Homo sapiens: one gene and its partner. The protein of the gene in region 1 purifies or fractionates together with the protein of each later gene. This does not show direct contact. Each region holds a gene or a part of one and is shown on either strand. Other genes may lie near its edges. The genes, in order: TUBA4B and IQCB1.

What was found.
Region 2: the proteins of TUBA4B (region 1) and IQCB1 purify together in Homo sapiens (co-immunoprecipitation; one large-scale study listed by IntAct). This does not show direct contact.

The regions. Positions count from the first base shown.
Region 1 is NC_000002.12:219,263,149-219,266,969, forward strand, and holds part of TUBA4B (tubulin-like protein alpha-4B), read left to right. Parts: intron 1-3,372; coding exon 3,373-3,418; intron 3,419-3,821. UniProt on the Homo sapiens protein: Tubulin is the major constituent of microtubules, a cylinder consisting of laterally associated linear protofilaments composed ofalpha- and beta-tubulin heterodimers.
Region 2 is NC_000003.12:121,790,012-121,793,832, reverse strand, and holds part of IQCB1 (IQ calmodulin-binding motif-containing protein 1), read left to right. Parts: intron 1-3,617; coding exon 3,618-3,760; intron 3,761-3,821. UniProt on the Homo sapiens protein: Involved in ciliogenesis. The function in an early step in cilia formation depends on its association with CEP290/NPHP6.

The DNA of each region.
Region 1 (3,821 bases):
GTATTCATGGCCTCTTATGTTTTAATCTAGATGCATTAAAATGCTTTAAAAATCTCAGTCTTGGCCGGGCACAGTGCCTCACACCTATAATCCCAACACTTTGGGAGGCCAAGGCAGATGGATCATCTGAGGTCAGGAGTTTGAAACCAGCCTGGCGAACATGGTGAAACACTGTCTCTACTAAAAACACAAAAATTAGCGGGGTGTGTTGGTGCATGCCTGTAGTCCTAGGTACTCGGGAGGCTGAGGCAGGAGAATTGCCTGAACCCAGGAGGAGGAGGTTACAGTGAGCCAAGATCACAAAACTCAGTCTTTTCATTCTGCTTTACATAAGACAGCTGACTGCCATTAGGATAGTTTTCTTTTTGGAGTTGGTGATACCTAGGTTGACTCTGAGAGTCCAACTCCCAAGGCCAGTTGGGAGAAGTTTCAGTGCTACACAAGAGAGTTTTGAGCCCAGTGGGCCCTCTGGGCCCCATATCACTCCATCTGGACAATAATTCCTGAGGTCCATGGTTTCATGGGCCAACCCAGTAGAAGGCTGAGCTTTCTTATCTTTGATATGTTAAGTGGCTGGGTCTCTTCTTTGGGCCTCTTTGTTCCAGGTGGGAGACAGAAGAGTTCTAACCTTCAGTCTGTAGCCAAAGCCAGAGTTAACCAACTTGAGATCATTCCCTAGCTTACTGGGTTGACAGGGTCTCTGAAAAAGTCCCCTGTTTCAACTGCACTATGTAACACAGTGGCTGAAATTTCACATTAGCAACTACTTCCTGGATAGGGTTGCTAAATAAAATACTTTTATTTGCTAAATCTGGCAGACCTAGTCCTGGTTTTGGCTGCTATCTGGAAGAGGGACTGAACTGTACAACAGTCCCCCCTTACTTACAAAGATATGTTGTAGGGCCCCCAGCGGATGCCTGAAATGGCGGATAGTACTGAACCTTATGTACTGTTTTTTCCTATACATGCATACATATGACCAAGTTTAATTCATAAATTAGGCACAGTAAGAGGTTAAGAACAACAATAGGCCAGGTGCAGTGGCTCATGCCTGTAATCCCAGAACTTTGGGAAGTCAAGGCAGGCAGATCACTTGAGGTCAGGAGTTCGAGACCAGCTTGGCCAACATGGTGAAACACCATCTCTAATAAAAATACAAAAATTAGCCAGGCGTGGTGGCATGTGCCTGTAATCCAAGCTACTCAGGAGGCTGAGGTGGGAGAATTGCTTGAACCCAAGAGGCAGAGGTTGCAGTGAGCTGAGATCATGCCACTGCACTCCAGCCTGGGTGACAGAGTGAGGCCCTGTCTCAAAAAAAAAAAAAAAAAGAACAATAATGATATAGAGAAATAAAGCAATGATAGTAATATGCCAGCATCACTGCTCTTGAGCGGTGGGGCTGTTATGAGGTAGAATAAGGGTTACATGAGCAGAAGCATCGCCACAGTCGATCTGATAAGGGATCCGGCTACTCAGTGGCTAATGGGTAGGTAGTGTCAACAGTGTGGATACGCTGCACACAGGGATGTTCTAGACATGATGGAGTAGGATGGCACTAGATTTCATCACACTACTCAGAATGGCGTGCAGTTTAAAACGTATACATTGTGTTTTTCTGGAACCTTCTCTTTAATATTTTCAGACTGTGGTTGGCTGCAGGCAACTGAAACTGCAGAAAGTGGCTAATGGGGGGCTACTGTGGTGTGATTTCCAGGCAACATGAGGGCCCATTTGAGGCTAGTGGCCATGCGTTCGAAACATCAGTCAGCATGGTTCTGGATTTTTCTATGGCCACTGTTTAGCTGGGTGAGTGCAGACACAGAGCTGGGGACAAAACAAATTTAACCAGGGTTCTGGTTTAGTCAAACAAGGATGTTGAAGCTAGTGGGAGGCAAGACAGTTGAGGGGTACAAAAGGGAGTGACCCTGGCTGGCCATGGAACTGAAGACTGGGAGGAAGGAGATAAAGACCGAGGAGGGGCTGCTGTGCACACTCTGCCATGTGGAAAGAGGGGAAGCAGAGCCCGAGTCCCAGATAAATCTTAATTCCAGCATTAATTAATCCCCATGTGACCTCAGGCAGGACACTAGGGATTTCAATTTCCTTTCCTTCATCCTGGGAAAGGGAGGCCCTGCCTTGCCTACCTTACAGAGTTGTTGAGGGATTCAAAGGAGGTACGGAGAGAAGGTGCCTTAAGCATAAAGCAGACTAGGCGCAGGGGCTCATGCCTGTAATCCCAGCACTTTGGGAGGCTGAGGCAGGTGGATCATCTGAGGCCAGGAGTTTGAGACCAGCCTGGCCAACATGGTGAAACCGTGTCTCTACTAAAAATATAAAAATTAGCCAGGCCTGGTGGCAGGTGTCTGTAATCCCAGCTACTCAGGAGGCTGAGGCAGGAGAATCGCTCGAACCCCGGAGGTGGAGGTTGCAGTGAGCTGAGATTGCACCACTGCACTCCAGCCTGGGCAACAGAGCAAGACTCCTTCTCAAAAGAAAAAAAAAAAGATGCATAAAGCAGGATACAAATGCTAGAGACTAGCCTTTTTATTTCAGAATTTTGCCTAAGACTATCGGGAGACTCCTTTTCTGGGGACATAAGGCCAGGCTAGAGCAGCAGTGACTTGCCATGGCCTAGGAAGAGACATTTAGGAAGTGCCTTGAGGCCCTGCTCATCCTCTTGCTTTGCCCTTGGAGAGCAACAGCTGTTTTGGACTAAGCACTTAAGAAAGGTTACCTTGTTAGTACCTCGTAATACTACCTCTCCCCATTCTCCAGAGAGAGAAAAAAAAAGAAGTTTTAATTGCTAGTAGCTATTAGAGGTGGGATTAAAACCAAGCTCTAGGTCGCTTGTTCTATGATATTCTGAGTTTCCAGGCAGGATGTCCTGAGGCTTGATCTCTTGGCCGAGGACTCATTATTTCTGGATCATTGCAGAGATCTTCTTAGTCCCACCCACAGTCGACTTACAGCCCTCAGCAACCCTAGGGCAGGGGAGTGCAGGGGTTTGATGGGTGGGGGCGGTGCTGGAGCTCAGGGTCTTGATTTCTAAATCATCTTCCACCTGTGAAGTGCAGGCTGTGCCACCAGGAAATGGGATTGCGTGACTGACAACAGATACCATGTACCCAGAGGCCTGGATACCTGTGTGGAGTTACTAGCCCTGGCCCCTCCTCTGCCCACCTCAGCTGGCTCCCCTGTTTGGGTGCAGGCCCAGAGCTTGCCTCGTACTCTGTGACCAAGTCAACAGGCCCTGCCCTCCCAGGCCGTTTCTAACAACATCCACCTGCTGAGAGCCACCCAGCGAGTATAAGGAGGAGGCTGGCTGGCCGCTGCAGGCCTCTCACAGATCTATCCCTGCTCACTATCCTGCAGCAGACAGAGAGACAAGACCCCAGCCAGCCCCTGTCCAGGCAGCATGGTGAGTAGAAGGGGCCTTGGGGGGACTGAGCATGCAAGTGAGGGTCCCAGTGGGCCCAAGATATCTGGCGTGAAGGTACCTTGGGAGTCCACATGGTGATGGGGCTACAGTATGTGGCGAGGTGGGGAGAGGGAAAGAGACTTCCAGATGTGGCTGTGGCCCCCAAATGTGCAGGTGTGGGGGGCATCACAGGGGGTAGGGAAGGAAAGTTTAATGGTAACCAGGTTGTGGGGCTGAGCCTAGGCTGAGAAGCAGGGCTGCTGAGGGGGTCTGAATTTAGGTGTGGGGAGTGTGGGGGAAGCAGGACTTGAGCAGAAAGTGTAGGCGATTTCCTCTGCTGGCTGAGGATCTCCAGACCCTGGGCCTTGCCACAGGTTCACTGTTGGGCTCTGATCCCACCTTC
Region 2 (3,821 bases), on another chromosome or scaffold:
GATTTTTTTCTACTTAGAAGTGTATCTATGGAATCTAATATTCCATTATTTTAAAATAGAAATTCCATTGCTTTCTTTATGTAACCAGAAGAGTTATAAATACTTCCATTAAAAAGATAAGCTGTGAAGCAAAAATTATTTAAGTCTCACATTTTGTGTTTGTTGCCTTTCCAGTATTTTTGCATTTGAGGTTCCAGAATATACTGAAATGCGGTTCTAACCTGTTGGATTCTATTTAATTTTTTAATTTTCAGTTTTCTCCAGTTCAGCACCTTCGCTCTTCTATTAGTTGTAACAGTTCATGCAAATGTCTCTTGCTTCCTTTGTAGCTTGGTTTTTTTTCAAAGGTTATTTCTGTCTTTTTGTGCTCAGGACTTATCTCAGTAATTTCCCCTTCCCATGGTTTTGGGAGAGAGACTGCCCACTGGTCACACTTATGGGTCCAGGTTGATTAGTGTTCTTTAGATTCAGCAAGAGGCATTCTTTTATAGTCACGCCCTTGCTAATGCACTTTCATAGTGGTTTCTTTTTTATTTAGTCATTTCTCGTATTCAGAAACTTTGTCTCTTAAGTACTCTTATTCAGCAAGGTTTTCTGAAGCGGCTAACAGCTGCTCTAGTTATCTTAGAGAAACCTCACAATTTACCTACCTCTATCATAGTGCTGATTTTTAAGTGTTTTAATTACATTTGTTGATTTCATCTTGAAACTGAGCTTCTTAAATGCAGATAGCATCTTTTTTCTCTCTCTCCCTCTGAGGCACAGTGTCTTGGCAGCAGAAAATTTGGTCAACTCCCACTTTAATGGTAAAAATTCAGATTGATTAAATGTAAATCATGGAATTTACTTATTTCAGAATATGACATCTGATCAGTCATTTCATCTTCAGAAGTGTAGTACAGATGCCAGGTGGTCCAGTGCCTACTAATTCTTACAAAGAAACCAGTTGGAAGAATAATTGTTTGATTTTTGAGTGATTAGAGAAACTCTGAACAAAATAACTCGATGTTATTTAATAATAAATGGGGGAATTACATTCAAAATCACTTCAGTTCCTAATAAATGTTTTCAGATATGAAAGTAAAACATATGAATCCAATAAGCACACCTGTTTACAATTTAGTCCCTATTTAAATCACCAAATCTCACTTTTTTTTTTTTTTTTTTTTTTGAGACGGAGTCTTGCTCTGTGGCCCAGGCGGGAGTGCAGTGGCGCAATCTCGGCTCACTGCAAGCTCCGCCTCCCGGGTTCACACCATTCTCCTGCCTCAGCCTCCCGAGTAGCTGGGACTACAGGCGCCCGCCATCACGCCCGGCTAATTTTTTTGTTATTTTTTAGTAGAGACGGGGTTTCACCGTGTTAGCCAGGATGGTCTCGATCTCCTGACCTCGTGATCCACCCGCCTCGGCCTCCCAAAGTGCTGGGATTACAAGCGTGAGCCACCGCGCCCGGCCCAAATCTCACTTTTGTCCTGTCTTTCTGGTTTGTACTTTACTTCCACCTTCATGCTCCATAGTCTTTTCATTTTTGCCATATTTGATAGCCTACATGCCTAAATTGTTTCCCAAACCCAGTTTTCTGACAGATTAAATATTCTAGCAGATGCAATTTTAATGATTACTATGTTTTTCATACTAATAGTGTAAAATGGTATTTAAAATATTGATAATGCAGTATTAGACATTATAATCTATAGCCAATTAGAAGTTAGAAACAGAGGTAGTTTTTTGTCGTTGTTGTTGTTTTGAGGCGGAGTCTCACTCTGTCACTCAGGCTAGAGTGCAGTGGCACGATCTTGGCTCACTGCAACCTCCACCTCCCAGGTTCAAGCTCCTGCCTCAGCCTCCCAAGTAGCTGGGACTACAAGTGCACACCATCACACCCAGCTAATTTTTGTATTTTTAGTAGAAATGGGGTTTCGCTATGTTGGCCAGGCTGGTCTCAAACTCCTGACCTCAGGTGATCCACCCACCTTGGCCTCCCAAAGTGCTGGGATTACAGGCGTGAACCACCGCGCCCGGCCACAGAGGTAGTTTTTTAAAAATCAGTTTAAAAGGAGGCTCTGTTTAGGGCCTGCTCTCTTTTACCCTCTATGAATGGGTAAGAGATAAAACATTATTATCTGCATGCTGTATAACCCAGAAGTTTTGAGGTGATGGAGTTCTGTAGAACAGGCAAGTTGCTATCAGCTATTCTTTGGGAAGGGAGAGGCCCTTACCTACTTCATTTCCAGCTTTCACAAAGAGCAAGAGACACTTAGAACTATTCAACTAGCCCTAGATCTTCTCTGGAATCTTTTGACACACATACACTTTTGAGGTCTTCTCTACCCTTGATAATAGGGATAAGAAAGAAGTTTCAAAACAAATAAATTCTCTACTCTGCCCTAAGTAGAAAGCTAGAGAAAATTTAAGTTGTAATTGATGGAAGAATTTATGAGAAACAACCACAGGCACACAAAATTTTATCAAAATCAAAATAAACTATTTTGAGTTGAAAATTCAGTTGAAAAATCATAATAATCCTAACTATACTATAATGAAGTCTGACTATTAAGAGTACAAAGCTATAGCCAAGGTACCACATTTGTTTACAGTTTAATTCTAAGAATACAGTTTAAAAAAAAGATCTAAGAGAAAATGTTCTTGAGGGAGACACATGTCAAATTAAGTCTATAGCGGTAAACTAAGTAGTTTATTCTGCCTTTCTTCTTATCCTCGTTTTCTTTTTCTGTGGGTGTCTGAAAGCATTTTGAGTATATTTACTGTAAACTGACACTTGTAGTCTCCTTACATAGTGATATTGGAAGCAACAAAAACTAGATGGGAATGGCTAAGGAGAAATTTTGGTGAATAAAAGCAGATAATACAGAAATTATAATTATATAAAATGTTTGTGGTCACATGAAAATTTTCATAACCAGTTATGAAAGTAATGTTCAGTTGTCAATAATTGAGAAATAGGCATAAGAAGAAAATAAAGATCAACTGTAATTACATCATGCAGTAAAAATCACTTGAAATTTTAATGTTTTTTATTTTTTTTTTGTGTAAGTAAATGTAAGTTTTTTGACACAATTTTGATGTCATTCTTCTATATCCTGATTTTCCTTTTACCTGACATTAGATCATCAGTATATTCTCATGTCACTAAATATTCTTCGAACATTTTATGTTTTCATAGTTCATAGAATCCCATCCCATCAGGTGAATGAACCAGTATCTGTTTATCCAACTCGCTGTTGTGAGACAAAGTTTGTTTTCAACTTGTTACTGTTGTAATACTGTGGAGAACATTTTTGAACATAAATTTTTACATATATATCTGATTATTTCCTTAAGAAAATTATTTGTAATAGAATTAATTGGTCATCACTTTTAAGGCTTTTTATTTATATATTTCAAATATTTTTCCAGACTTTTAATGCATATATTCAAATATTTCTACAGAAAGATTGCACAACAGCAGCAGATGACAAGCTATTTTATCATACCTTATTAACACTAGAAATTATCTTAAAATTTTTTCTGTTTACATTTATTTGATTACTAGTGAGGTTATGCATTTTTTCATATGATTTATGAAAATTATGTATAACACACTGTTTCCATCACAGATCCAAACGATCAAAGATGTTGCTGGAGATAAATAGGCAGAAGGAAGAAGAGGACCTCAAATTACAATTGCAACTTCAAAGACAGAGAGCCATGAGACTTTCCCGAGAATTGCAGCTGAGTATGCTCGAAATAGTTCATCCAGGTGAGTGGCAGTATCAACTTTATCAATATAAGAATATTTAGGTTATCTTTTAACAAACCAA